Linked DNA regions of Homo sapiens: regions 1, 2, 3 and 4 are each reported to be linked to region 5. Evidence: microRNA targets listed by miRTarBase, many of them from high-throughput screens and not tested one by one. Region 5 holds a microRNA gene; each other region holds the end of a gene's coding sequence.
What was found. Region 5 holds the annotated microRNA hsa-miR-4665-5p (CUGGGGGACGCGUGAGCGCGAGC, at 2,897-2,919, opposite strand). A microRNA usually pairs through its seed, bases 2 to 8, with sites in the 3' UTR of a target mRNA and lowers its output. Matches are read on the target gene's strand: a 7mer-m8 pairs with bases 2 to 8, a 7mer-A1 pairs with bases 2 to 7 and ends in A, and an 8mer does both.

Region 1 (5,123 bases), not on the chromosome of region 5:
TTTGCCTAGGTGGGGGGCCTGGCCTGTGCCCTCTGCTAAGGGGTGAGTAAGAGACTGATCTGTGCCCTCCCTTCCCCCTCGTCCAGGGCACCCAGAGCCAAGGTTCCGCCCTCCAGGACCCTGAGTGCTTCGCCCACCTGCTGCGATTCTACGACGGCATCTGCAAATGGGAGGAGGGCAGTCCCACGCCTGTGCTGCATGTGGGCTGGGCCACCTTTCTTGTGCAGTCCCTAGGCCGTTTTGAGGGACAGGTGAGGGACAGCTGCACAGAGGTCTGGGCACTACAGGTGGTGACAGCAGCCACGGGCTTGTCAGACTTTTCTGGCCCAGGGGCAGCATCTGCCCATCCCCTTGGGTGCCGATGGGACTGAGACCCCCTGGGTGGGATGGGATGGCCAGAGCAGGGTCCTGGAGTTCCAGCCACTGGCCGGCAACCTTGCTCTCACCTTGCTCTCCCCACTGGCCCAGGTGCGGCAGAAGGTGCGCATAGTGAGCCGAGAGGCCGAGGCGGCCGAGGCCGAGGAGCCGTGGGGCGAGGAAGCCCGGGAAGGCCGGCGGCGGGGCCCACGGCGGGAGTCCAAGCCAGAGGAGCCCCCGCCGCCCAAGAAGCCAGCACTGGACAAGGGCCTGGGCACCGGCCAGGGTGCAGTGTCAGGACCCCCCCGGAAGCCTCCTGGGACTGTCGCTGGCACAGCCCGAGGCCCTGAAGGTGGCAGCACGGCTCAGGTGCCAGCACCCACAGCATCACCACCGCCGGAGGGTCCAGTGCTCACTTTCCAGAGTGAGAAGATGAAGGGCATGAAGGAGCTGCTGGTGGCCACCAAGATCAACTCGAGCGCCATCAAGCTGCAACTCACGGCACAGTCGCAAGTGCAGATGAAGAAGCAGAAAGTGTCCACCCCTAGTGACTACACTCTGTCTTTCCTCAAGCGGCAGCGCAAAGGCCTCTGAACTACTGGGGACTTCGGACCGCTTGTGGGGACCCAGGCTCCGCCCTTAGTCCCCCAACTCTGAGCCCATGTTCTGCCCCCAGCCCAAAGGGGACAGGCCTCACCTCTACCCAAACCCTAGGTTCCCGGTCCCGAGTACAGTCTGTATCAAACCCACGATTTTCTCCAGCTCAGAACCCAGGGCTCTGCCCCAGTCGTTAGAATATAGGTCTCTTCTCCCAGAATCCCAGCCGGCCAATGGAAACCTCACGCTGGGTCCTAATTACCAGTCTTTAAAGGCCCAGCCCCTAGAAACCCAAGCTCCTCCTCGGAACCGCTCACCTAGAGCCAGACCAACGTTACTCAGGGCTCCTCCCAGCTTGTAGGAGCTGAGGTTTCACCCTTAACCCAAGGAGCACAGGTCCCACCTCCAGCCCGGGAGCCTAGGACCACTCAGCCCCTAGGAGTATATTTCCGCACTTCAGAATTCCATATCTTGCGAATCCAAGCTCCCTGCCCCAAATAACTTCAGTCCTGCTCCAGAATTTGGAAATCCTAGTTTCCTCTCCTTCGTATCCCGAGTCTGGGACACAAAACTCCGCCCCCAGCCTATGAGCATCCTGAGCCCCGCCCTCTTCCTGACGAAACTGGCCCCGGATCAGAGCAGGACCTCCCTTCCGACCCTCTGGGAACCTCCCAGAGGTCCAGCCCATCTCGGAGCATCCCGGAGGAAATCTGCAGAGGGTTAGGAGTGGGTGACAAGAGCCTGATCTCTTCCTGTTTTGTACATAGATTTATTTTTCAGTTCCAAGAAAGATGAATACATTTTGTTAAAAAAAATATAAAGCGCAAGTCCATGTTTATCTGGGAAATTGGGGATGGGGCGGGGAGTGGAGCGCCCCCTCTTCCCTCTGTCTTCTGGCTCCCGGGACTTTGCGCTCCCTACCTGTGGAGCGCGAGCGACAGTGGCGGCGGAAGGACGTAGGCTCCGCCCCGGCCTTGGGGCTTCCCCGCGCCGCCGAGGGCCCGTCCCGCGGGCGCCTCCTCCCGGACTGGCGGTGGGGCATCCCCGGCGCGGCCCCGCCCCCGGGCCTCAGCCCCGCCCCCGCGGCCTCAGAGCCACGGGCGCCCGCCCCGCCCCGCGCCGCCCCGCGCCGGCTCCGCAGCTCGCGCCCGCCCGCCTGCCGGCCCGCCCGGCGCCGGGCCATGGCGCTGCTGCGGGATGTGTCGCTGCAGGACCCGCGGGACCGCTTCGAGCTGCTGCAGCGCGTGGGGGCCGGGACCTATGGCGACGTCTACAAGGTGCGACGGGACGGGCGGGAGAGCCGGGAGGAGGGTGCCAGCCCCGCACCCCGCGGCAGGATCTAGCCCCCGGCCCCGCCCCCCATCCCGCTTCACCCTCCGCCCCTGCAGGCCCGCGACACGGTCACGTCCGAACTGGCCGCCGTGAAGATAGTCAAGCTAGACCCAGGTGAGGGCCCGGGTCGGGCCTCTGCGCCAGAGGAAGGGCAGAGCGCCCGCGGGCGCGGGGTGCGGGCGGAGGGTTGACGTTTCCGAGACCCCTGAGAGGCGTGCCCCGGGAGGTGCTGTCACCTGCACCTGCCTGGCCCGGAGGGAGGCACTCTGTGCCCATTTTGCAGATGGGGGCACTGAGTCAGGGCAACCCCAGCGCGCCTTCCCCATGATGCTTTGTGCTTCCCAGGGGACGACATCAGCTCCCTCCAGCAGGAAATCACCATCCTGCGTGAGTGCCGCCACCCCAATGTGGTGGCCTACATTGGCAGCTACCTCAGGTGAGGCTGCCTTATCCTCCTGGCCCCAGGCAGCCCCCATGTGACCTGCTTTGTGCCCACCCCAGCTCTTTGTCCCTAGGAATGACCGCTTGTGGATCTGCATGGAGTTCTGCGGAGGGGGCTCCCTGCAGGAGATTTACCATGGTGAGGCCAGGGCTCCAGGCCCCAGCAGGCCCCAGCCTTCCCCCACCCCTACCCCACTGGGGTACCAGAGGGGACTCTGGGCCCTGGACTTGGGCTCCTCTCCACTCCTGCCTGGCTGTGTGACCTTGAGAGAAATACTGTCCATCTCTGGGTTCAGTATCCTAGACTAAACTGGGAGGGGACGTGGCCAACACCGCTTTCATTTAACAGTGCCTGCTGCTTTTCCCACACACGGTAGCCTGGGAGGGTGGGCATGACCCCCGGGCCCCCAAGCCAGCCTCTCCCTTTTCCTTTCAGCCACTGGGCCCCTGGAGGAGCGGCAGATTGCCTACGTCTGCCGAGAGGCACTGAAGGTAGCTGGGCCTGTGAGGTGCCCACACCTCTGGTCTCCAGAAGCTGTGGGCCAGGAGCCCAGATGACCAGCAGGGAGGCGGGTGGAGTGCCTCGGGTGGGGCTGGCCCGAGGGGCTGTAGGTCCTGGGGAAAAGGGGCCCCAGCCCTGTTGCCGGAAGCAGTCCATTTCCCTCTTGGCTCAGTCACTTCCTGTTTGGGGAGAGGGGAGGAAGAAGCAGCCTGAGTGGGGGGCCCCAGTCCTGAGAGGGGGTTTGGGGAGGTGGGACAGTGCTGGGTGGCTGCTCTCAGGGACTCCTCTTTGTCGCCAGGGGCTCCACCACCTGCATTCTCAGGGGAAGATCCACAGAGACATCAAGGTAGGCACCTAGCTGGGGGCACTCCTGGGGAGGGAGGAGGAGGCCCTCGGGGGCACCAGATGGGATTGTCTCTCCTCCATTCCCACAGGGAGCCAACCTTCTCCTCACTCTCCAGGGAGATGTCAAACTGGGTCAGTACCCTGGGGACACCATCAGGGTGAGGGCTCTGTGGACCCTCCCCGGCTACCCTGGACTCAAGGGTTGGGTGTCACTGGGCAAGTCACTTTGCCACTTGAGTCTCAGTTTCCCTGCTTAGAAGATGGAACGGTACTCCCTCCCTGCTGGAAAATAGAGGAGGTTGGGTCTGCACGGAGTTGACATGGGACCAGGCACTCCGTCAGGGATAGAGGGTGGTTGACCCCTCTCAGGAGAGGGACCTGGCCTTGCCTAGGGCCTGCGGCAGCTGTGACCAAGCGGGGCCACCTGCCCGTCTGAGCCCTGCCAGGTGCAGCCGAGCCAGAGCCCTGGGCGTGGGAGGGTGAGTGGCAGCCAGAGGGCTGGTGAGAGTGGCTGTTTCTCCCCACAGCTGACTTTGGGGTGTCAGGCGAGCTGACAGCGTCTGTGGCCAAGAGGAGGTCTTTCATTGGGACTCCCTACTGGTGAGGCTGCGCCTGGGGCGGAGGGGTAGGGGCCACAGAGCAGGGCACCCGGCCATCCCATCTGTGACCCCACCTCTAGGATGGCTCCCGAGGTGGCTGCTGTGGAGCGCAAAGGTGGCTACAATGAGCTATGTGACGTCTGGGCCCTGGGCATCACTGCCATTGAGCTGGGCGAGCTGCAGCCCCCTCTGTTCCACCTGCACCCCATGAGGTCAGCCCAACACTTGCCCCTCACCTGACCCTTGATCTGCGGCCTGTGGCCCCTGACCTCGCGCCCTCCACAGGGCCCTGATGCTCATGTCGAAGAGCAGCTTCCAGCCGCCCAAACTGAGAGATAAGACTCGCTGGTAAGGGCCACACCCTGCTGCCGGGACCCCCTTTTCTGTCAGCCCCATAGTGGACAAACAGCCTCTGCCAACTCCCGGGGGGCAACCCCAAGAGCCCTGTCCTTTCTGGGCTACTACAGACCATCTGAGTCAGGGGCCTGGTCCTTCTGTGGGTTGAAGACCCAGCGTGGTCAGGAAAGAAGGGCAGAGGGTTGGTGGAGGAGCCGCTGTGTCGCAAGGCAGCGTTGCTCGGCCAGTGGCCCTTGGCCTCGGCTGGCTCCTTCCTGGGTGGGCCCAGCAGACGCCTCTGGAGGGGTGGTAGGGCAGCTGGCAGGACACCCTGCACGAGGGCTAACCTGGATCTGGCGCTGGGGGGCTCTTGTGCCTTCTAGGACCCAGAATTTCCACCACTTTCTCAAACTGGCCCTGACCAAGAATCCTAAGAAGAGGCCGACAGCAGAGAAGCTCCTGCAGGTGGGAGGCAGGGGGCCGGGAGAGAGGCCCAGTACTCAAAAGCAGGGCCCTGGATCAGGGGCCAACCTGATCACCCCCCTCCCCCACTTTCCAGCACCCGTTCACGACTCAGCAGCTCCCTCGGGCCCTCCTCACACAGCTGCTGGACA
Region 2 (5,000 bases), not on the chromosome of region 5:
AGGAAGGATGCAGGCTCTGGCCTGTCTGAATTGGTGTGTAATCCAGGATGGATTATTTCCTTCCTCTAGGCCTTAGTTTACCCAGAATCAATAAAATGGGGCGATCCATCCCTGCCCGACCTATACCAGTGTACAGAGGAAAAAAATCCCATACTTTGGAGGCCAGGAGATCTGTGTTCCAATCCTGGCCCCACTGCCTGCCAGTTGCAATGAGGAGGCTTCTCATCTCACAACCTCCATTTCCTTATCCATTACGGGGACCATGTCCAATGTGCAAAGTTATTGCAATAAATTGAGACAAAGTAAATGCAAATAACTGGCATGTCATTTATTGGTTTATTGTCTTTCTCACCCACTAGGATGTCAGCCCCATGAGGCAGAGACTTGGTCCTGTTCCTTGCTGCACCAAGCACCCAGGATGCTGCCTGGTGCTCAATAAGAGATCCCTAAATAATCATTGGTTGAATAAATGGACATAAGGGGTGCTCAATAAGTGATGGCTTCCATTGTTATTCTAAAGTGTCCTGAGACAGAAAGCATTTGAAGTTCATGGTTGTTGAGAAAGGAAAGGTTCAAAAGCAAGTAATGTCCAGGGTTGGCATGGGGCTGTCTGTCTGCCAGGTGATGAAGGGTACCAGGAAAGCTGGGCTTATCTAGACCAGGGGACAGGACTATGTGCTCATGAGAGGCAGGCAGGGGCATCCATGAGCAACGGGGGCACTTGGGGCATCCTGTCCATTAGACTCCCTCACTCTAGCTGCCTGCAGGAGGACATGCAGGCCCAGTCTGCCAGCGCAGCTGACTTTTGCAAAAGCAGCCAGAAATCCAGTGGAAAACAATTCATTTTTACAAGCAAAACACAAATGAGAGCAATCAAAATTCATCTGTAGGTTGGGAGGGGCCCAGTGGTGTAGCCCAAGCTTCTTGGGCAGTGTGGGCAGAAGGACCCCTTGGAGTGGCCTCCATGGGTTCCTGGTCTCTCCAGCCTTCTCAGGCAGCCAAAGCCCCTGAGACATGGGACTCCACTTGGGGGAAGTGCCAACATGCCATCCAGATCCAAAAGGCTGGGATCACAGCCTGGGAAGGAACTGCTTCCCTGAGTTCTTGGGCTCACAGTGGTATCCAGGCTTTGGGGCTCCTGGGCTCAGAGCAGGTCAGCCCGTAGTGCCTGGTCTATGGAGATGTTCAGTAAATATTCATTGAACAAGTCTCTTAGGTGTGACTTTGAGCACAGCTCTCCATCTCTGGACCTCATCTATAAAATGGCCACAGTAATGTGGCCCCACCTACCTCACAGAGATAACGGAGAAATCAAGTGAGATGAAAGGGGTAAAAGTTTTTGTTTCTAAATAGCAAAGTGCTTTACAAATGCCAGGTGTGGGAATTCTCGTTGTCATTATCATTATGAGTAAGACACTTTTGCCAGAGCAGAAGAAGGGGGCCTGGACCCAGAAGGGCAGAAAATCTACAAAAACATCACAAGGAGGGTCTGGATGGAGCCCACCAGGGCTCATCACAGAGCGGACATGTGCTTACCAGCTCCGAGACAGACCCAGTCATGGAATACAGGTTTGTCCTCCTTCCCAGCGACCCGGCCTCCTGCTCAGTGGGGGACCCGGTCAGGTCAGGCTGTATCTCCCCAGACAGAGGGTTTCCGGGAAAATACACAAACCCCACCTGTGCTGTCTGTGAAATATAGCAACTATATAAATAATATAAATACTTTCTCATATATCTTAGCTATATAAATTATTCTCCTTTGCTCTAAAAACTATATATTTGAGGTAGACAAAAATACCCTGTGAGCATTTCCCTTAAAGCTGTAGAATGAGGGGTCAGTGGTCACTCTAGTCCCCAGGGGCCCCAAGAGGGCCGAGGTGGGTCTTCAGGGGTAACTGGAAAAGAAAGGGATGAGAGCAAGGAAGAAGAGAGGGAGAGAGACAGACAGAGAAGACCCCACAAGCCAAGGAGCCCTCAGAACCTGCACTGTGCCATTGACTTGGGGTGTCCATGTTAGCAGCCAGCCACTGCCTAGATGCCTTAGAGCCTGCCCTTTGCCCTCCCACGACCCTGGCACTGCCAGCCATGAAGTCAGAATGCAGGTGGCATGTTGGTGGATCAGGGTGCTCTGGCCTCCACGTTGCTCCCAGGCCCCCTGCTCTGCCAGTGAGGTCCCTGCTGCCTTACGCCCAGCACTGAGCCTGGGTGGAGGCAGAGTTGGGGTCTCGGAGGAGCAAGATGGATTGGGAAGGCAGAGAAAATCTCCATGCTGTGGGGAAGTGGAAGAAAGGAGAAAACCAGCCCTCTCCCCATTTTTCTCCTGCTGCCAAGGTGTGGGCCAGGTGCTTGGGTCAGCAATGTCATTTTAACGAGAGGGGCTCAGGTCAGTTTGGCTTCTCAGCCGGGCCTCTGCAGTCAAAAATCCTTCCAGCATCCAGCAGACTGCCCTGATCCACTGGAGACTGGGCAGCTCCTCCTCGCCCTTGGAGGTCTCAGGGAGTTGGCCAGGGCACAGTCAGCGGGCCTTTGTCCTGGAGCTGGCACAGGCGAGGTTTCTGAGCATTCAGCTGATTCTGAAATTTCCTGTGTTGGTGAAGGGTCAGCAACTCTAGGTTTAGGGAGAAAGGAAGCTGACAGATGGGCGTGGCAGGGCCAGCAAAGTGGCCAAGGGCTTCCCGAAAGAAGTCACTTCCTCCTGGGTGGCATCGGGCCCCACTCTGGGGAAGTACAATGCCTCCAGCAAGGGGACCCCTGCAAGGTCTTCATCCTGAACAAGAGAGGCATGTGCAACAGGAACCCCCAGCCTGGTCCAGGGGCTGTGCATCCATGTGTGCCTGTGTGGAGGTACCAGTCTCTCCTCCTTTCACAGAGGGCCTTGGCAGGTGCTGCTGAAAATGTCCACAGGATCTGAGGAAATTATCAAAGTCACGTCTCCTCCTCAAGTAAGAGCCAAAGTGAGGGCCAAGTGAGAGGCCATTAGGAACTGAAGGAGGCTACCCAGGAGCCAGGCTTAGCAAGGACTCAAGCACCTATAACCCCAGCCAGGGCAAAAGCCTTAACTAGATGAGCAGCCACAAGAATAGAAATGTAACTTCAAGTCATAGCTCGTGAGCCAGCTGTTCTTCAGTATTGTGAACTCAGCTGGTATGGGGGTGTCACAGACCAGGCAGGCCCCAGCCACAGGAAGTCACCAAAGCTCACTCAAGAGCCAGCTGAGAAACTGAGCTCGCCACGTCACTGCCAGGCACCAGGAAGCTGTTGCCCTCCTCCTCTGCGCTGGGAGTGAAGATTCCTTTGGCCAGCAGGGAACACAGGGAGGGGCCGTTGTCTCCCTGTTCAACCTCAGGTGCACTGAGTCCCGCCTTGGTGGCTAGTTCTCCCACCTGTCTTACCTGCACTGGTGGTAGTTTTGAGCACGGCTGGGTGAGTGTGCATAACCCAGCTCTCGAGACAAGAATGAGGCCTCAGCGGAGGCATATTTGAAAAGCCAAATCAAGGACACAGGGCTCCAGGGCACAGATCTCACTCGGGTCCACTCAAGCACAGAAAGCTCTCCTTTCTCTGAACGGATGGCTTCTACCACCTGTGCTTTCTCCCCATCTCTGGCACAGCAAAACCAGGGGAGTGGTGGAGGTGTGTGACACCTGGAGCCCACTGCACCTGAGCAGGGCCACAGGACCCGATTGACCCATCTCAGCCAGGCTCCCGCCTTCACTTCCAGCTGGCACTGCCTGCCTTGGCATTCCTAGCCCAGCAGTTCACCTCCCAAGAACATGCTGGCTCCAAGCCATTCATCCCAGGAAGCAAGATGGAATAGCCCCTCTCTCCCGTCCAAAATTTCAGTCCTGCTGTGCTCTTGGTCTCCCTTATTTCCCTCCATGTCTTTCTCACTCTGCCCTCCTCTCCAAGTCCTCAACAAGGTTGGGGATGCTTGGGTTAAGGGAGGAGGCTTTGCTTCTCTTTGTTGAGTATCGAGGGAGGCAAAAGGCTGGCCAAGGAATGGTGGTGAGTGGCACACTCGTGTGCATTGGCACACATGCCGGTTTATGCATGCATGTGATGACAGTCTGCCCAGAGGGCCGGCTGGGCAGCTTGAAGGGTGCCACAGGAGGTCCTGGCAGTGCCAGACTGGCTTGCTGGGCAGTAGGCCTAGTGCTTGCAGGTGTACACAAGCTCCTCCTGCACACATTGCTGGCACTCCACGTAGCAGCACCACTGCACCTGGCAGTGGCAGGAGAAGGCCACCAGGCGGCTCTGGGTGTCATAGCCCCGCCCGCAGCACAGGCTGCTGCAGCTGGCCTCCCGGGAGCACACCCTACCTGCTGTGCCAGGTGAGTACTTGCTGGGCCGGCAGAAGCTGGGTGAGTCCTCCATGTACACCAGGTCCCCAGACCTTGGGGCCAGGCCTTTGGTGAGGCTGCCCTGCCTGGCAGGGGCCCACAGCTCTAGGCGGCCCAAGGCCTCATTGGTGGCACTGGACACCTTGACAGCCGAGTCATAGCGCAGTTTCAGCACCTGGCCCGTCTCACGGAACGGGGAGAGCTGCTTCCAGCAGGTGCGCACGGCACAGGAGCCTGATACGCCATGGCACTTACACGTGGTCCTGAGGCCACTCTTCACAGCCTGTGGGGGAGGCAGAACAGAGGCGTGGTCAGAGGCCTGGGCCCAGCAGCCAGAGCCTGCCCCCAGAGCACCAACCCCAGCAGGGCAGAGGCAGGAGAATGGGAAAGAGACCCAGGGTCTCAGCCCCAGCTCCTCCCCTTGGCCTGGAGTTCTTGTGGAATAGACAACTTACGCGACTGAACACAGCAGTCCCAGTTCACACCAACTGAGTGACTGAACACAGCAGCCCCGGTTCACACCAACTCAGTGACTGAACACAGCAGCCCCGGTTCACACCAACTCAATGATTGAACACAGCAGCCCCGGTTCACAACTCAGTGATGACAACTCAGAACTTAATCTCATAAACAGCTAGAGCACTGGTGTCTCCCAGCCTC
Region 3 (5,109 bases), not on the chromosome of region 5:
AGGCATTCTCCTTCGCTTTGTGATCACCAAAAAGTTCATTTCTTTGTTATGAAAATTAGTATCCTATTTTCTGACAGATGAATGCACTTTTTCAGATTCCCTACATTTCACTGTGACATAGTGAGAAGTCCTGGGGCTACTTAGGGAAAGGGCGATGAGGTGAGGCCCAATAACTTTAGTCCCCAAGGCCCTCTTCAGTCCTCCTGTTCCACATTCCCAAAGACACCTGAAGGTGAAGGAAGCATGTTTGCCTTGCACACCCTGTGCACCTTATGCCAAGACATAACAAAGTACAGTGATTGGGGCATGGGCTTTGGTATGGGGCTGGGTTAACATCTCCATGACTCTTCCATCATCTGAAAAGTGAGAAATAGTAACCAAAATCTACTTCACAGGACTGTTTTAAGGATTGAGTTAATACTGGGAAAAGACTTAGAACAGTGCCCAGCACAGAGGAACTAATATAAAAAGGTGAAGGAATCTATAGAAGCCTTCTCCTAATAACCAGGATGGTCTCTGGCTAAACGCCTGGGCCCATGCCGCAGATCACACCAACCATCCCAGATGGAGATTTTTATTCTTAACTCCTTCGTGACGATTTTACAGCCTTTTTTGGCAACTCCATATGACCACCAATCAATACTCAAGCTGGACTCTTTTTTCTGTCTTCTACTTGTGGGGAGTCATGAACTCTTGAAGTATCTCTTCTGAAAGGACAGATTTCATTTCAATAATCATTTTATTAGTACAGAAGAATCCCCACTAGTATTTACATAGTGCAAAAAAGCTGTTATTACCCCCCAAATGTGATATAACAATTATCCTTCATACAGCAAAAGATGAAAATCCCTTCATGTTATAACTCACACTAATTTTGCTAGTTTTTTATTAGAGCATTACAATTAAGACATTAAATTATAAACTTATGTGGTATATTTAGAAATTAAATTATAAAATAATACAAATACTTTCAAGGTGTGATGTGCCAACAAAATTTAAATTTTTCTCATTAGGATTCAGATTTCAGATTAGGCAAACAGTTTGGTTGATTCTGTGATGTATGTAAAGGTTGGAAGGGATGAGGGAGGAGGAAGATGTCTGTAAATAAATTATTTCACAGAATTTTTTTAAATCAAAAAAAGATAAAAATTTTTAAATGAGTTGATGTTCTAACCTGTTGGCCCAACATACAGAAAATACATGACAAGGGTGTTTTTTTTTTTTAAGCAAACAGCAGCTTTACAAACAGTAATACTTCTTTATACATATATTAAAGTAACAATGTGTTAAGATTGAACAGTTTCATGTTAAAGAGTTGAAAATGAGTGTAGCATTCACTACTCATTTGCACATTTCAATTCCCACCCCTCCCTCCTCCCCCAGCTTATTTAGAAATCAGACAAGTACATATTTGGATATTAATTTCTCAGTATTTAAACTATGTGAATTCCTTTTGACTAATTCTTTTCCAAATACTGGAATCATATAAAATACCATCTCTGCAAAAACAACCTCCAGTCAAAGCCAGTAAAAACTTCTCAATGTATAACACACATTACTTTTCCACATTTAGTCAAAAGAAATATATTACATCATTTACAAACATATTTAAACCGAAAATTAAGCTAATATGAACATCTGTCTTTTGAGAAGTAATCTTCACAGCAAACAAACCTACTGAAGCAGAAATCTAACTTTGGAAGTGTAATTCATATTTTAGTTAATATGCTTACATACTGAAATAGAAATCTATTATTAATTATTGCCAGTAAAACCACCTCTACACATTAAGAGAAAAAATCACTATGTTTTTTATTTCTTGTGATGATGAACCAACCCTTACTCTTCCCACTGGATCTCTTTATAGGTCTTCAAAGAGCCAACCATGCCCACTTCAAAAAATATATAAAAACTTTCCTAATTTTCACAACTCCTCCAAAGCCTGTAATTCAATATTCCAAAATTTAAAGGAAACAAGTTATAAAGACATTATTAATATTTATTTAAGCATGCTCTCAAAATGGTAACATTTCCTTTAATAATTCTTGGGTTGTCCTCTAGAGGTGACCTGTCTCATAAAAAGGCTATGGTCCCTTGGATTTGCTGGCAGAAGAGGTACTGCATATGCGAGAGCATTTACCGAACATATAAATAAACACTTCTGAAGTCTATAGCAAAACTAAAAGTTACCAGTGTTCTGAAGATTTCCTCAACTTCTCTTTTGATACAAATGTCAAAAATCTAAAATGACAATTCATGTTCAGAAGAGATATAAAATATAAGAAACCTGTGAAAAGCCATCATCTCAAGGTCAAGAGTTATCTGAATCACTGACATCGAGCAAAGGAAATTTACACCATAAAAAGTATGAACAGTTTTTAAATTCACTTTTAAGACTGTCAGTAGTTCAAAACCTCTATCATTTCTTTAAACCAACGAACACTTCCAAATGTGTAGAGACAGTAAGATCTGCCATGTATAAATCCATGAGTACTATTTCAGAGGCTTCATTCCTTACCTGCTGTGTTCCTTTAAATATTGGATATTTAGTGCCTAGGAAGTCTATACTGGAGAACAGTTTAGACAGGACAGTATAAGAATGTCCCCTTTTAGCACAATAATAAAGTTGATTGACTAACATTTTCTACACAGCTCCTGAACTTTCACAATTCACAAATACTAAATCATCAACCAAGAATCCAATCTCTCCAGTAATTAAATGCCAGCATTATAAAACATCAAAACTAGCACAGTAGTCCCAATGAGTTCAGTAAAGAATCTGCCCAATTCTTCTCTCCTGCCTCTGTGAGGCAAAGCCCTGCCCCAGATAATCAGGGCAGGGATAATACCCCTTCCTTCTCAGTTTTGTGCCTGCTTATGGAAGCTTGTAAGTGGAAAACACACACACGTACGGATGTGTGCATGTGTGTGAGGGGGGTGGGGGGGACAGTTGGGGGTGGTGGGGAGTTGGATGGAAGACAAAAAAATTACATAGTTTGTCATTCTTCCACCATTACATAAACTTGTAAAGTCACTGAAGTCCAGGTGGTGACTGACTAGCAAATAAAACATTTAGCTCATTTATTGTCTCCTAAGCAGGTATACAAACTCCTAGAGAAGGGCAGAGATAAATAATAGTGAATAGAGAATTAATACCTACATATCTGTATACTCTAAATCATCTAATAGTTTCAGCACAATTAGAACAACTTTCTCTTATCTTCTAAAACTTCCTCCTCTAAGCCTTGATTATCAGGATACATGTCACAAGTTGTGCAAAGTTCCTTTCCTTGACCTCCTGACAGTAACTATGGTCATTGCTATGTGGAAGGTGCTCAAGGCTAGGTGCAAAATAGGTATTTTTTAAAAGGTGAAACAGTTTTGCACTCAGGACAAGTTTGGATACTCAATCAAATCCATATCTCAAATCAAGAGTCCTGAACCAGAAGCATGCAAGAGAACACACCAGTATAAGACTCTGTTTCTGAAGAGTTTACATGTAAGTGCAGCAGTCATACAATCGGTTACAGTTATTCACCTGTCAACATGTGCCTAGCTTTTTGTAAATAAGTCTATGTACAAGAGCATTCCTGAGGTAAGTAAGAAGCAAATATGAGACAGAACCTGGAGGTCCTATCATGGGTGACTGTTCACTATTATAGACAGCATCTATCACTTTCCACAAATGAGGCTAGCTAGCTATAATCTAAGATGGTGGCTCCACTGCTAGCCGAAGTTTTGAAGGCTCTGTTTTAGCCCATCCCAACACTAATTAATTACAATAATCAGTGACTTCTGACTAAACATTTGTGGACCACATAAAAGTTGCATTGATTTTTTAACATACAACACTGGTGGACTTAGTTACCCTCAGCCTTTCATTTAATTTTCTGACTCCACCCCCAGTTCTTTTTTAAAGAAGCCCAAACAATTTTTTGGTCAAATTAGAGTAGAGGAGGTGGAGTCCTGAAGCAAACACTGATAACTGCTTCTATCCTTAGAACCTTGTTCTTTAACTTTCAAAATGTCTTTTAAGTAAGCATTTGAAATTTATTTTCTTTAAGATCTGGTCTTCTTTTTATCACTGTTTTTGATTACAAAATAAGCTGAAACAGATCTGAATTTTCCACACAGTTCTTAGAAAGACACTTAGATACTAATTAAAAGCTAAGCTACAGATCATAACAAGTAAAAGCTACAAAAATATTTGTTGGGAATTAAATACGTATATTAAATACTGGACAGTGCAAAATGTTGAGATGAAGCATAAAAGGTAATGGCTGCAACCCTTCCACAGCTGGAGATAGAGAGCCGACATTTCCTGAGTTACGTAGTTTGCGTTGTGTAATTAGAATCAGAGTGCTCTTTGTTGAGCGAGCTGCAGTTGCTGGACTTCTGCTGCCCAGGACTGGCCTGCTGGTCAGCAGTCCATGCCTCACTGTCCATCCCTGGCTCCAGCACCTCAGGCGCCTCTGCTTCCTCTTCTCCACTTTGCTCTACATTGTCTTCCTCAGAACCATTAAGGGTTTTTCCAAGCTGAAGGGTTTCCATAGTTCTCTGGGTCTCTGAGACCCAAGACTCAATTCTACTATTGAGCTGCACTTCTACAGATATGGGTTCATGAGTATAATCTTCCTCCTCCTCCTCATCTTCATCTTCTTCTTCTTCAAGCATGCCAGGTACAAGAGTGCTGGTGGTGCTGGTGATGGAGGAATTCAAAAGATCTCGGCAACTGCCATCCAAAGAGCCAGTCTCTGTACTCTGCTGTGAGGCCCATTCCAGGTCATCTGGCTTCACTTCCTCTTTATCACTTGCTGTGGATTTCCCAGCACTTGTAGCTGAGGTAGTACTGCCTGTAGCCACTAATGATGGCTGCTTACCAATTGGGGGTGTGTCAAATGGAAGTTTACTGGGTTTTTCAGAAGTGCTGTGCTTACAGGATACCTCTTTCTCATTTTCTGATGCTTCCAGTCCATCTGAAGTTTCCACCATGTTTCTCCAATTTGTTTCTACAAGTATCAAGCAGATTTTTTAAAAACCAGAACACTGTTTCAAAATCATGCAACTCTTTAAAAACCCCCAAAAAAGAAAGAACAACAAAATATATAA
Region 4 (5,124 bases), not on the chromosome of region 5:
TTCTCCTACACAGCTGTCTTCGGTGCCTACACTGCTTTCCTCTTCATCCGCACAGGTTGGTCCTCAGTCCCTCATGGGTCCCTGGGGGCCCACAGGAGCGGGTGGGAGAATGGGAATACTGTTTGTTCTAGGAACAAAAGTTCTTCTACTCCAGTCCTTGAGACAGGCTGAGCCAGAGCCCTCAGCCTGGTGAGGTCTGAGAGGTGGAAAGGAGCAGAGGCCGTGGTGTGTGGGTGGATGGCTGGGGTAGTGGGATCTTGATCTCCTGTTTCAGGGGATGAGGGTCACTAGCCCTGGAAGGGCCAGAGGAGGTGGTAGGGCTGCTCCCTGAGCTGCTGTCTCTTTTCCCCAGGACACCTGATTGGGCCGGTTCTCTGCCATTCCTTCTGCAATTACATGGGTTTCCCAGCTGTTTGCGCGGCCTTGGAGCACCCACAGAGGCGGCCCCTGCTGGCAGGCTATGCCCTGGGTGTGGGACTCTTCCTGCTTCTGCTCCAGCCCCTCACGGACCCCAAGCTCTACGGCAGCCTTCCCCTTTGTGTGCTTTTGGAGCGGGCAGGGGACTCAGAGGCTCCCCTGTGCTCCTGACCTATGCTCCTGGATACGCTATGAACTCTCACCGGCTCCCCAGCCCTCCCCACCAAGGGGTACTGCAGGGGAAGGGCTGGCTGGGGTCCCCGAGATCTCAGGAATTTTTGTAGGGGATTGAAGCCAGAGCTAGTTGCGTCCCAGGGACCAAGAGAAAGAAGCAGATATCCAAAGGGTGCAGCCCCTTTTGAAAGGGGTGTTTACGAGCAGCTGTGAGTGAGGGGACAAGGGGCAGGTCCCAGGAGCCACACACTCCCTTCCTCACTTTGGACTGCTGCTTCTCTTAGCTCCTCTGCCTCTGAAAAGCTGCTCGGGGTTTTTTATTTATAAAACCTCTCCCCACCCCCCACCCCCCAACTTCCTGGGTTTTCTCATTGTCTTTTTGCATCAGTACTTTGTATTGGGATATTAAAGAGATTTAACTTGGGTAACATGGCCTTGGGCCTTTGGGAATCGGTCTATTTGGGATCTTGTGTGAAGACTCTAGGCAGCTCTTGGGAGTGTGCCCACCACCTGTCCCAGCTACCTTGAACACTGACATCTGGGCGGTGCATCCAGGCGGGTAGTTCCCTGGAGTACAGGATGGGCTGGGAGCTCTGGTTGCTGGGAGCCTGTGGCTTCCTCCTTCCTGAACCATGCCCCAAAGTCCTAGTGTGGTTGGCTCTGAGACTGCAGGTACCAGGTGTGAGCCCAGCTCATCCTGGGGCCTGTGCCTTGGCTGACGGGTCAGGGAGTGGGAACCATGGCCCTGGCCCTGACCTCAGCGATGGAGCCTCCGACGTATCTCCTCTGAGGGGAAGATGACTGGCCTGAAGCCTCTGCCAGGACCTCCACAGTCTGCCAGTCTTGTTTTTCACAAGAGGAAATAGGTCCCTGAGTCACCATAAGTAGAGGCTTTTCTGGTTCTCTCCACCTCTGACCTCTGCCCCAGAGGAACCCAGAACACAGGCTGCAGCCCTGAGGGCAGCAGGGACTTTGCCAAGCAACACAGTGACTCCAGGGTCCTTCTCGGCACCTGCAAGTGTTCTGCCTGCTCTCCATCATTTTTGGAAGGGCTCTCGTTTCCCTGCCTGTGCTCTTTTAAAATTAGATTCCTGAAAGAGTATTAGCCCTGGATTACTTGAGGTCAGGAGTCCGAGACCAGCCTGACCAACATGGTGAAACCCGTCTCTACTAAAAATACAAAAAATTAGCCGGGCATAGGCGGGGCGTGGTGGCAGGAGGCTAAGGCAGGACAATCACTTGAACCTGGGAGGCACAGATTCCAGTGAGCCAAAATCACACTACTGTACTCCAGCCTGGGTGACAGAGCGAGACTCCATCTCCGGGGTGGGGGGCAGGGGGGGCGGGGGAGGGAAGAAAGCCCTTTAGGTCCCATTCCCCAATCAAGGAGGTTGTCCCAAGGTCCCTTCTCTGAGGCTGGCCACTGAGGGAAAAAGGATGTGCGGTCACTCCCCCACGATGCCTGCAGGCTGGCCATGACAACGACATCCACCCGGATGGAAGGGGCAGCATCGCAGTCATCTGCCTCCTGGGGTACATCTAGGACATGGCGGTCCAGAAAGGAAGAGGCTCAAGCCCACTGTGAGTTGCCCATCCCAGAGGTTGGACTGGCTCTGGGAGCACTGGGCAGAGGCCTGCTGGGTGCTTCCCATCCAGAGGCTGATTTCCTGCATCGGCCTCCCCACACCCACCCCTCCATCTCAGGAACTGCCCAGCCTCCTGCTCCCTTCACCATCCTCTCCCTACCTGTGGGCAGGTGGGCAGGAGGGCAGTGGTGCAGGCAGGGTTACTGTCCCCACTGCAGGAAAGGGAACTGAGCAGGAGTCTGGAGGGGTGGTCATGGGGAGTGGCAGGGTTAGAACCTGAGACCCTGGACCCGGTGCTCCCCCTCACCTCCCACCAACATTCTCACATCCAGAGCACACACAAGACTCCCGGATCACCATTCCCGAGGGTCTTACCCACTGCCCACAAGGTGGTACCTGCTTGCATTTACCTGCTAACTGAGGTGGGACGCTGGCCTTGGGTTTTAGAAAATAAAGCAGCGGGGTTGGGAGGCGAGTCTGCCAACGGCCTGGGTTTCATCTCTCTCTCTTACTACTTGTGAAGTCCTGGACAAATTATTTAATCTTCCTGTGACTTGATTTCTGTGTCCATAAGAGGATGAAGGTTAATTCCCTGTGTTAATAGGTGTTAAATACTTAGAACAGGCCCCACCCCTCAAGCAAGTTCAGTACTACTAGTCCTGTTTGGGGAGTATACACAGTAGGCACCCAATAGTGACTTAAAACAGGGCCACGATGGTCATTCTCACTACCCTCTGAGGAGAACGACACAACTGACCTGCCCACCCATGGGGAGCTTGAAAGGCAGCCCCCCACTGCTGAGTGGTGCAGGCTGGGGGCTGCACAGGATCCAGCATGGAGGGCAGGGGAAAGCCAGCTTTATTGAGTAAACTTCCCAGGACCTGGGACATCTTAGATCTCCCCTTCCCCCAGGAGATAGGACCCCTAAACCTCCCCTGGGTCCTAGGACCACCTGACCCACCACTTGTAGTCTCCAGTGAGGAGGGGACCCTTATTTGGCAAGAGATGAACATGTAAGCAGCTGTCCGCCGGAGGAAAGGACGATGGCTGAAAGGAATGAACCACCGCAGGCGGTGTCTCTCCTGTCCAGCTGTGGACAGGACCTCCACGGCCCGGCCTTCCTGGCCTCGGGCACTGGCTGGCCTGGGCCTGCCGTGGCAGCACAGCTTCTGTTGAAGGCTTGGGGATGGCCAGGCTGCCGGTCTGGGGCAAGATCACTCGATCTCCAGGATGAGGTCGTCACCTTCCAGTGTCATGTCCTTGGTCACATGAACCTTGCGGACAGTACCCTCCATGGGTGAGGTCACCACAGTCTCCATCTTCATGGCACTGAGCACACACAGGGGCTGGCCCTTGGCCACCTTGGCCCCTGCCACCACTTTGATGTCTATCACCTTCCCAGGCATGGGCGCCCCGATCTGGCCCTTCACGTCCTTTAGGGCCTTGGGGTGGAAGTGCATCTCCTGAAGACACAGGGCAGAGGGGACATGACATCCTGGGCCCAGCCAAGCCCCACCGCCTGGCTGGCCCTGGGGGAGACAATACCTTCATGGCCTGGGTGTCCTTGACCAAGATGGACCGCAGCTGCCCATTGAGCTCAAAGAAGACCTGCCTCTGGCCGGCCCGGTTCAGGTCGCTCACGGCCAGGGCTTTGATGTGCAGCGTCTTGCCCCGCTCCAGCTCCACCTGCAGGGAGGGTGTGCAGACTCAGAGCTGGACGCCAAGGTGGGAGAGCAGTCCCCCGGCCCTGGCCATAGGAAGTCCCCACACTGGGCCTTGGCTCCTCGTTCCTAAAGGCCTAGCTCCCGGTCTCAAGGGTCCTTTCTGCTCCCAAAGCTTGCGAGGCTGGGTGACAGCCAAGCTAAACTCCAGAGCTCTGGGGCAGGGGGCCAGGGTGGAGTGTGGAGAAGCGCCAGAGCCACTGACCTCAAACTCCTCTGCGATCTTGGGTCCCTGCAGGAAGAGGCGAGTATTCAGGCTATCCAGGGGGCCAAAGGTGGCAGTGAAGTCCTTGAAGTGGGCAAACACATCGGGGTACATAGCTGCTGAGAGCACATCTTCCGGCGTCACCTCCTCCCCATGCCGGTCTACCAGCTCCTTCTCCAGTGCCTGCAGATCCAGGGGAGGGAGGGAGGCTCCAGGCCGCCCCTCCACCCTTGGCAGGTCCTTCAGTACCTGGGGAGCAAAGCAGAGGATCAGTCCCAAGTCCTGCATCCAGCCCCCACCCTCACACCATGCTGGGCCTTCCCTACCTTAGAGCGAAAGGGTTCGGGGAACCCCCCATGGGGGACACCGATGTAGCCCTGCAGGAACTCCACCACGGAGCGGGGAAAGGACAGCTCTTCCGCCTGAGCTTCGGCCTCTGCCCGGCTCAATCCATTCTGCACCATAAACTGGGCCAGGTCCCCCACGATCTTGGAGGAGGGCGTCACCTGAGGAGAAGGCCCTGGAGGTTAGGGTGCCAGGCACCTCAAGGAGGCCAGTGGCAGGTGCATGCAGGGCTGGGTCAGGTAAGGAGCACCGGGCCGGGCTCACCTTGATGAGATCGCCCAGCATCTGGTTGGCCTCCACATAGGCCTTCTTGACCTCCTTGAACTTGGAGCCAAGCCCCATGCTGTGGGCCTGGAAGTGCAGGTTGGTGTACTGGCCCCCTGGGATCTCATTTTCATACACGTCCGAGTTGCCAGACTTCATGGTGGCCGTGCAGTCGAAGGCCGCGTACAGTCCCCGAGCCCCCTCCCAGTACTCACTGTAGTCAAACACGCGCTCCATGGGCACCTCTGCAGGGAGGCCAGAGTCAGAGGAGGCCTTAGAAATGTGTGACTCTTCCAGGACCCAGGGCTAGCTCAGGTCCCATGTCTGACTCAGGTGACAGAAGGCGGCAAGGCCAGAGCAGGGCATCTGGATCCTAGGCAGGTCCAACACTACTGGGACTGGTGGTGGCTGC
Region 5 (5,124 bases):
GAGGTTTTCTCTAGGTGGTAGGATTAAGTGGCAAATTTTCTCCTCACTTACCTATATTTTCTAATTTACCTACATACCTACAACCAACATATTTCTTGTTTTGTTTGTTTGTTTTGAGATGTAGTTTTGCTCTTGTTGCCCAAGCTGGAGTGCAATGGCACGATCTCGGCTCACTGCAACCTCCGCCTCCCAGGTTCAAGCAATTCTGCCTCAGCTTCCCGAGTAGCTGGGATTACAGGTGCGCACCACCACTCCCAGCTAATTTTTTGTATTCTTAGTAGAAACGGGGTTTCACCATGTTAGCCAGGCTGGTCTAGAACTCCTGACCTCAGGTGATCTGTCCACCTCAGCCTCCCAAAGTGCAGGGATTACAGGTGTCAGCCACCGTGCCCAGCCCATATTTCTTGTGTAATAGAGTTTCTTTTTTAAGATCAAGGACCCGATCCTACTTTCATTATAGTTAAGTTGCTATCATCTTGACCTCTTCATAACCTAGAGTTGAGGTTCCTTCTACTCACCCACACCTTTCTCTTTTATATAATCTTAATTAAGAAACCCTTTATCAACATTTCTAGCAATTCCCTACACTTTTATGTATGAGGAATTAGAAATTCTGCCAGATGACTTGGAATTAGGCACCTGGAGTTTTTGAAGTATGACAGACCTAGATTTTAACTTTGTTTAACAACTTTCTTAAACTAAGAGGCAGTTTCCTCATCTGAAAAATAAGGTTAATACCTAGCTGATAGGCTTGTTGTGAGATTAAAGGAGACAATGAATATAAAGTGCTTAGTGGCACAGGGTTCAATAATGTAAGCTAATATTGTCCAAGAGTCATGAAATAGAGCTGATGACTAAAGAGGAGTAGAGGATGTTTGCTTGGGTACGTTGGGCTTCAGATTCCTGGGCTTTGTCGAAAGAAAGGAGGAATGTCTAGTCAGACACACGTTTTGGTTGCCAGGTGCTGAAGTAAGACTGATCCCTGCATTTTTCTTTCTGTGAGCTGAGGTTCTGTGGACTCTTCAGAGTCCACAGACTCTTCTCTGAGGGGAGAGAACCCTGTAAATGCGTTATATATTACAAATGTCTGATGAGAGGAGACCTCGAATACTAGATAAAAGGTATGTGTGGAGGACAGTGTGAATACCCTAACAGAGCGTTCCCGCTTCACTATTTTACTTAAGAGTGATACTTAACTTACTGGACAAAAACAGCTTTGAGGTTAAAAAAAAATTTTATCACTGCTTTAAAGTTCACATTAATGAGAAGTAAACAATTGCAAGAGTCAGAGTATCCTAATCATTTAGTTATACACATTTTACTTTTAAAATGCATGATTTCTGTAATTTTGTTTTTGTGTTTAGGTAATTCTAGGTTTTAACGAGGGTTCTGTGTACCTAGAAAAAATAATATGTGCGTCTTTCAAATAGAACATGAGGAAATAGTAGTATTTGCTTTATGGAACCATGAATTCCTACCTCCCAACTAATTTTAAGTAACATGTAAACCAATGTGAATGATGAGTCCACTTTTTAGTCATTAAACAGTAATTGTAAAATGTAGTGAGATTATCAGCCCATGCAAACAACTGTTTAATGCTGTACAACTCAGACATGAACTATTTTGACTGTTTTCAGTCCCAAGAATTTGTTTAAATGAGGTTCCATTCTCTTTATTCTTAACAGATCTCAAGAATCGGGAGGGTGGAAATTTGTAACTGAAAACATGGAATTAGTTCCAAAATATGAATTGATGTTAAGAGCTGGGGTTCTAAAAATCACTTCCTTTTCTTCTGCATGTGAACGTATGGTCGAGTCCTTAAACTTTCTTTCTAAACTTCTCAAAATTCTGGTTATATATAGAAGACCCGCAGTCACAAGGGAGAAAGGGTGGGAACAGAATGTAAATTTTATAGTAGAGAAGATTTACATTTTGCGCTTTCTCACTATTCATTTGCCATTAACAAAGGTTATCTAGCAACTTTAATTTTAGTTTGGGGGGCTAACACGGGTCTTGCAAAAGAAGTTTCCTCTTGAAGCACTTGCTTTAAAAAAAGCCTTTTGGCCACCTTCCCAGGCGGTAGCGAATTAAGCTGCGCAGGCGCCTTGCTTCCCCCTCCATCAACATGTTCGATTGGCCTACGATTGATTACATCATTGGTCCGCGCAACCCTAGCAGGCTTCTGGGCCTGTAGCTGAGCCGAAGCTCTTCCTTTTGCGTAGCGGGGCGGGGCACGATGGTGGCGGGGGGGGAGGGGGGAATTGTTCTACTACGCATGCGCACCGGGGATGGCGACAGGGCCTCTTTCTTTGCTTCTCTCCACAGCTCTTCCCAGCCGGGGGGCTGAGTGCCCTCCCCCTTCTCTCCCTGCCCCTCCCCTTTCTCCCCCCTCACCGCCCAGCGGGGCTTCTAACTGACAGTTGTCGCCGGGCCCCGTCCGTGCACCGCCTCCTTCTGCCCGTGTCCCCCGCAGGTAGAGGGGGGCGGGAGGGGGTGTGAGGGAGAGGAGGAGCCGGAGCCGCCGCTGCGGCCCCCTCCGGGGAGGGGAGAGGAGAACCCCCTTCCTCCTCGCCCCCTCCCAGCCCCCCGCTGGCCCGGGAGGGGGTGGGGCGCCGAGGCCGCGGCGACCCGGCAGGGCCTGGCCGGTGAAGAGCAGGCGGGCGGGGTGCGGAGGGGTGAGGCCGGCGAGGGCCGTGCGCGCGCCGCCGCCGGGGGGGAGGGGAGAGGAGGGCACCTAGGCTCTCCTCTTCTCTCCCCCCTCCTCGCGCGCCATGTAACCCCGCCCCGCCGGCGGTGAGCTCAAGACCCCCGCGCGCACCGAGCCGAGCCGGCGGCTGAGGAGAGCCAGGCCCGATGTGGCGGGGGCTACGCGCCGCGGCCGAGCCGTGAGGAAGCGGCTCGCGCTCACGCGTCCCCCAGCACCTCGAGCGGCTGTTCCACACCGCCCAGCCTAGGCCTGCCGGGGCATGAGTGTGCCCGGGACGCCGGGAGCGATGGAGCCGGCTGGGGAGGAAGAGCGGCCGCCACCGGCGGCCGAAGGAGAGGACGACGAGGAGGAGGTGGCAGCGGCGGCCCAGACCTCAGGGCCGGCCCACGGAAGGAGTGCCTCCTCGCTGGAGGACGCGGACGATCAGGAGGAAGAGATGGAGGCGATGGTGATCGGAGGCGGTTGCTGCAAGGAGCAGGAGCTGACCTACGAGCTACAGCAGGGCTACCGCATCCTGGGCGAGTTCCTGCAGGAGAAGCACCGGGGCCTCACCGCCCCCTTTCTGCAGCCCTTGGGGGGCGTTGCCACCGCGGAGGAGGAGGTGGCGGAAGGGCCGCGCAGCGGGGGCCGGGGCGGTCGCGCCTTCCCGCAGCAGCCCGGACAGGGCATGTGTCTGCTGCAGATGGAAGAGAAGTTCGCCAGCGGCCAGTACGGGGGCATCACCGAGTTCGTGGCGGACTTCAGGTTGATGCTGGAGACGTGCTACCGCCTGCACGGAGTGGACCACTGGATCTCCAAACAGGGCCAGAAGCTGGAGATGATGCTGGAGCAGAAGTTAGCGCTTCTCTCTCGGTAAGCGAGCCCGGTCCCCGGTGGGACTGACAGACTGACACAAACACACACTCACACGTGCCCGAGGATGGGCTGGGCCAGGGGCCTGGGGGCGGCGCTGATAGGTGCTGAGTCGGTGCTGGAGAAGCCCGGGAGGAGGAGCGGCGCTGGGCGGGGACCGGAGGGGTGTGGTGGGTGTGGGCCGAACCCGGCTTGCGCGTAGACTGAGAAGGAAACCCGAGTCTGCAGCGCTGAAGAGCTGGGTATAGTTTGCAGATGTAAAATGGAATGGGTCCCGTAGGAAGAATTGCACGTGTAGGCAGAGGAACAGTTTTTGTGGGATGGAAGTTGGACCTGCAACTTTTAGACAGTTTTAGCATGACATTTAAAACAGCGTTTAGGATGAAATATCTCTAGAAAAATAATTTTGGCTTATGTAAAAAGGTGTCTTAAACCATTAAAAAATAATTTTATCATTTACTACCCATGTCGGTCATCGAAGATTTATGGAGTGTTACTAAATGGTTAATGGTTACTTTTGCATACTACTGATCTTTTCTCTCCGTTTCATCTGAGGACACCCAATTTTTGCAATAATAGGGAATGCATCAACACACATTTTTTAAAGTTTATACATTTATGTTTATTCTACCAGAAATCATAGGCAAGTCAGATGATACTGTGCTCTTGGTATCCGCCACCCATATATCCAATTATTTAACACAAGAGGAGGATACTAAAATGAATGTATTGTTTTATAATAATTGTATAGTCTGTGTCAGCCAAGTTAATTTCTAAAGTTTAAATTTTTCGGGAGTGGAAAAATTCAATGTTTTTGGTATTGGTAGTTGAAGTGGAATAGTAGTTTGACTGTTTACTATTAGAGTGAATTTAAGTTGAGCAAGTCACTTAACCTTTTTGGCCTCAGTTTCCTCATCTATCAAGCGGGGATAATAATAGTACTTCTCTCATAGAGTTGCTTTGAGGATTTAATGAGTTAATAAATGTGAAATCAACAGTGCTGCTCCCATAGTTAGCCAAGTATAAGTGTTAGCCATTTTAATGTAAGTAGTAGCAGTCGTTGAATAATATGAGTGTATACTTCATATCTGAAACGGCATTATACTTGTGCTCTTACAGAATAGCTCCTAGAAATTGTGTTAATTTTTTGGTTCTTGATTTGTCACTGTAATTTAAAAGTAACCTTTGTCATTGGCTTCCCATATGCCATTTTCAAGACTAACGGTGATTTTTTTCACCAAAAACAGTTAACATAGTGCCTGTCTTCGTTAAGTGAGCTCTCTTTAAGGAACCTCTTCTTGAATCCTTTCATAGAGTAGGATTATTTAGTAATAGAATAATTATTCACATATTTGCTTTGTAAATTACTTTTAATACTTTAGTAATTTTGTATTTCTGTAGTGTGTTTGTTACCCTTGTCTCCACAGTGCATTATTGCTGTGACTCACATAAAAAACAATCCATTCACGTTATTATTTTGAAGTTATGAAGTATCCTCCTGATTGATGTCACAAGATTTTAGACCTGGAAGAACCTTAGAGTTCATCTAATCTATCAGATGTGGG

Region 1: miRTarBase lists MEN1 as a target of hsa-miR-4665-5p. Seed matches in the 3' UTR shown: 8mer at 1,001-1,008.
Region 2: the mRNA of WNT9B is a reported target of hsa-miR-4665-5p. Seed matches in the 3' UTR shown: 7mer-m8 at 1,608-1,614 and 8mer at 1,027-1,034.
Region 3: the mRNA of SECISBP2L is a reported target of hsa-miR-4665-5p. Seed matches in the 3' UTR shown: 7mer-A1 at 2,951-2,957.
Region 4: miRTarBase lists RCE1 as a target of hsa-miR-4665-5p. Seed matches in the 3' UTR shown: 7mer-A1 at 939-945.

What each region holds. Positions count from the first base shown.
Region 1 is chr11:64,800,162-64,805,284 of GRCh38, reverse strand. It overlaps MEN1 (menin 1), which reads left to right. Exons shown (of 10, transcript NM_001370259.2): 9 at 87-251; 10 at 469-1,769. The coding sequence ends at 951. It overlaps MAP4K2 (mitogen-activated protein kinase kinase kinase kinase 2), which reads left to right and starts at 2,071. Exons shown (of 32, transcript NM_004579.5): 1 at 2,071-2,231; 2 at 2,343-2,400; 3 at 2,632-2,722; 4 at 2,802-2,866; 5 at 3,164-3,219; 6 at 3,528-3,575; 7 at 3,664-3,706; 8 at 4,102-4,174; 9 at 4,254-4,385; 10 at 4,459-4,521; 11 at 4,893-4,974; 12 at 5,069-5,123. The coding sequence starts at 2,136. RefSeq lists silencers at 1,932-2,111, 2,262-2,441 and enhancers at 3,952-4,001, 4,092-4,141.
Region 2 is chr17:46,875,868-46,880,867 of GRCh38, reverse strand. WNT9B (Wnt family member 9B) reads right to left here. Exons shown (of 4, transcript NM_003396.3): 4 at 308-4,623. The coding sequence ends at 4,150. It also overlaps a transcript of LRRC37A2 not described here. Among named protein-coding and RNA genes, the nearest start is that of WNT9B, 27 kb to the right of the region's middle. RefSeq lists enhancers at 2,040-2,539, 3,849-4,449.
Region 3 is chr15:48,987,918-48,993,026 of GRCh38, forward strand. It overlaps SECISBP2L (SECIS binding protein 2 like), which reads right to left. Exons shown (of 18, transcript NM_001193489.2): 18 at 721-5,009. The coding sequence ends at 4,327. Among named protein-coding and RNA genes, the nearest start is that of SHC4, 27 kb to the left of the region's middle.
Region 4 is chr11:66,845,508-66,850,631 of GRCh38, forward strand. RCE1 (Ras converting CAAX endopeptidase 1) reads left to right here. Exons shown (of 8, transcript NM_005133.3): 7 at 1-55; 8 at 353-1,045. The coding sequence ends at 588. It overlaps PC (pyruvate carboxylase), which reads right to left. Exons shown (of 23, transcript NM_001040716.2): 19 at 4,713-4,957; 20 at 4,430-4,609; 21 at 4,104-4,352; 22 at 3,723-3,863; 23 at 2,913-3,640. The coding sequence ends at 3,392. Among named protein-coding and RNA genes, the nearest start is that of RCE1, 4.6 kb to the left of the region's middle. RefSeq lists an enhancer at 4,737-5,124.
Region 5 is chr9:6,005,630-6,010,753 of GRCh38, reverse strand. It overlaps MIR4665 (microRNA 4665), which reads right to left and starts at 2,928; the gene lies at 2,850-2,928. BRD10 (bromodomain containing 10) reads left to right here and starts at 2,272. Exons shown (of 8, transcript NM_001017969.3): 1 at 2,272-3,559. The coding sequence starts at 2,967. RefSeq lists silencers at 2,205-2,724, 2,775-3,004, 3,195-3,354, 3,745-3,804 and enhancers at 2,242-2,741, 2,742-3,243, 3,375-3,604.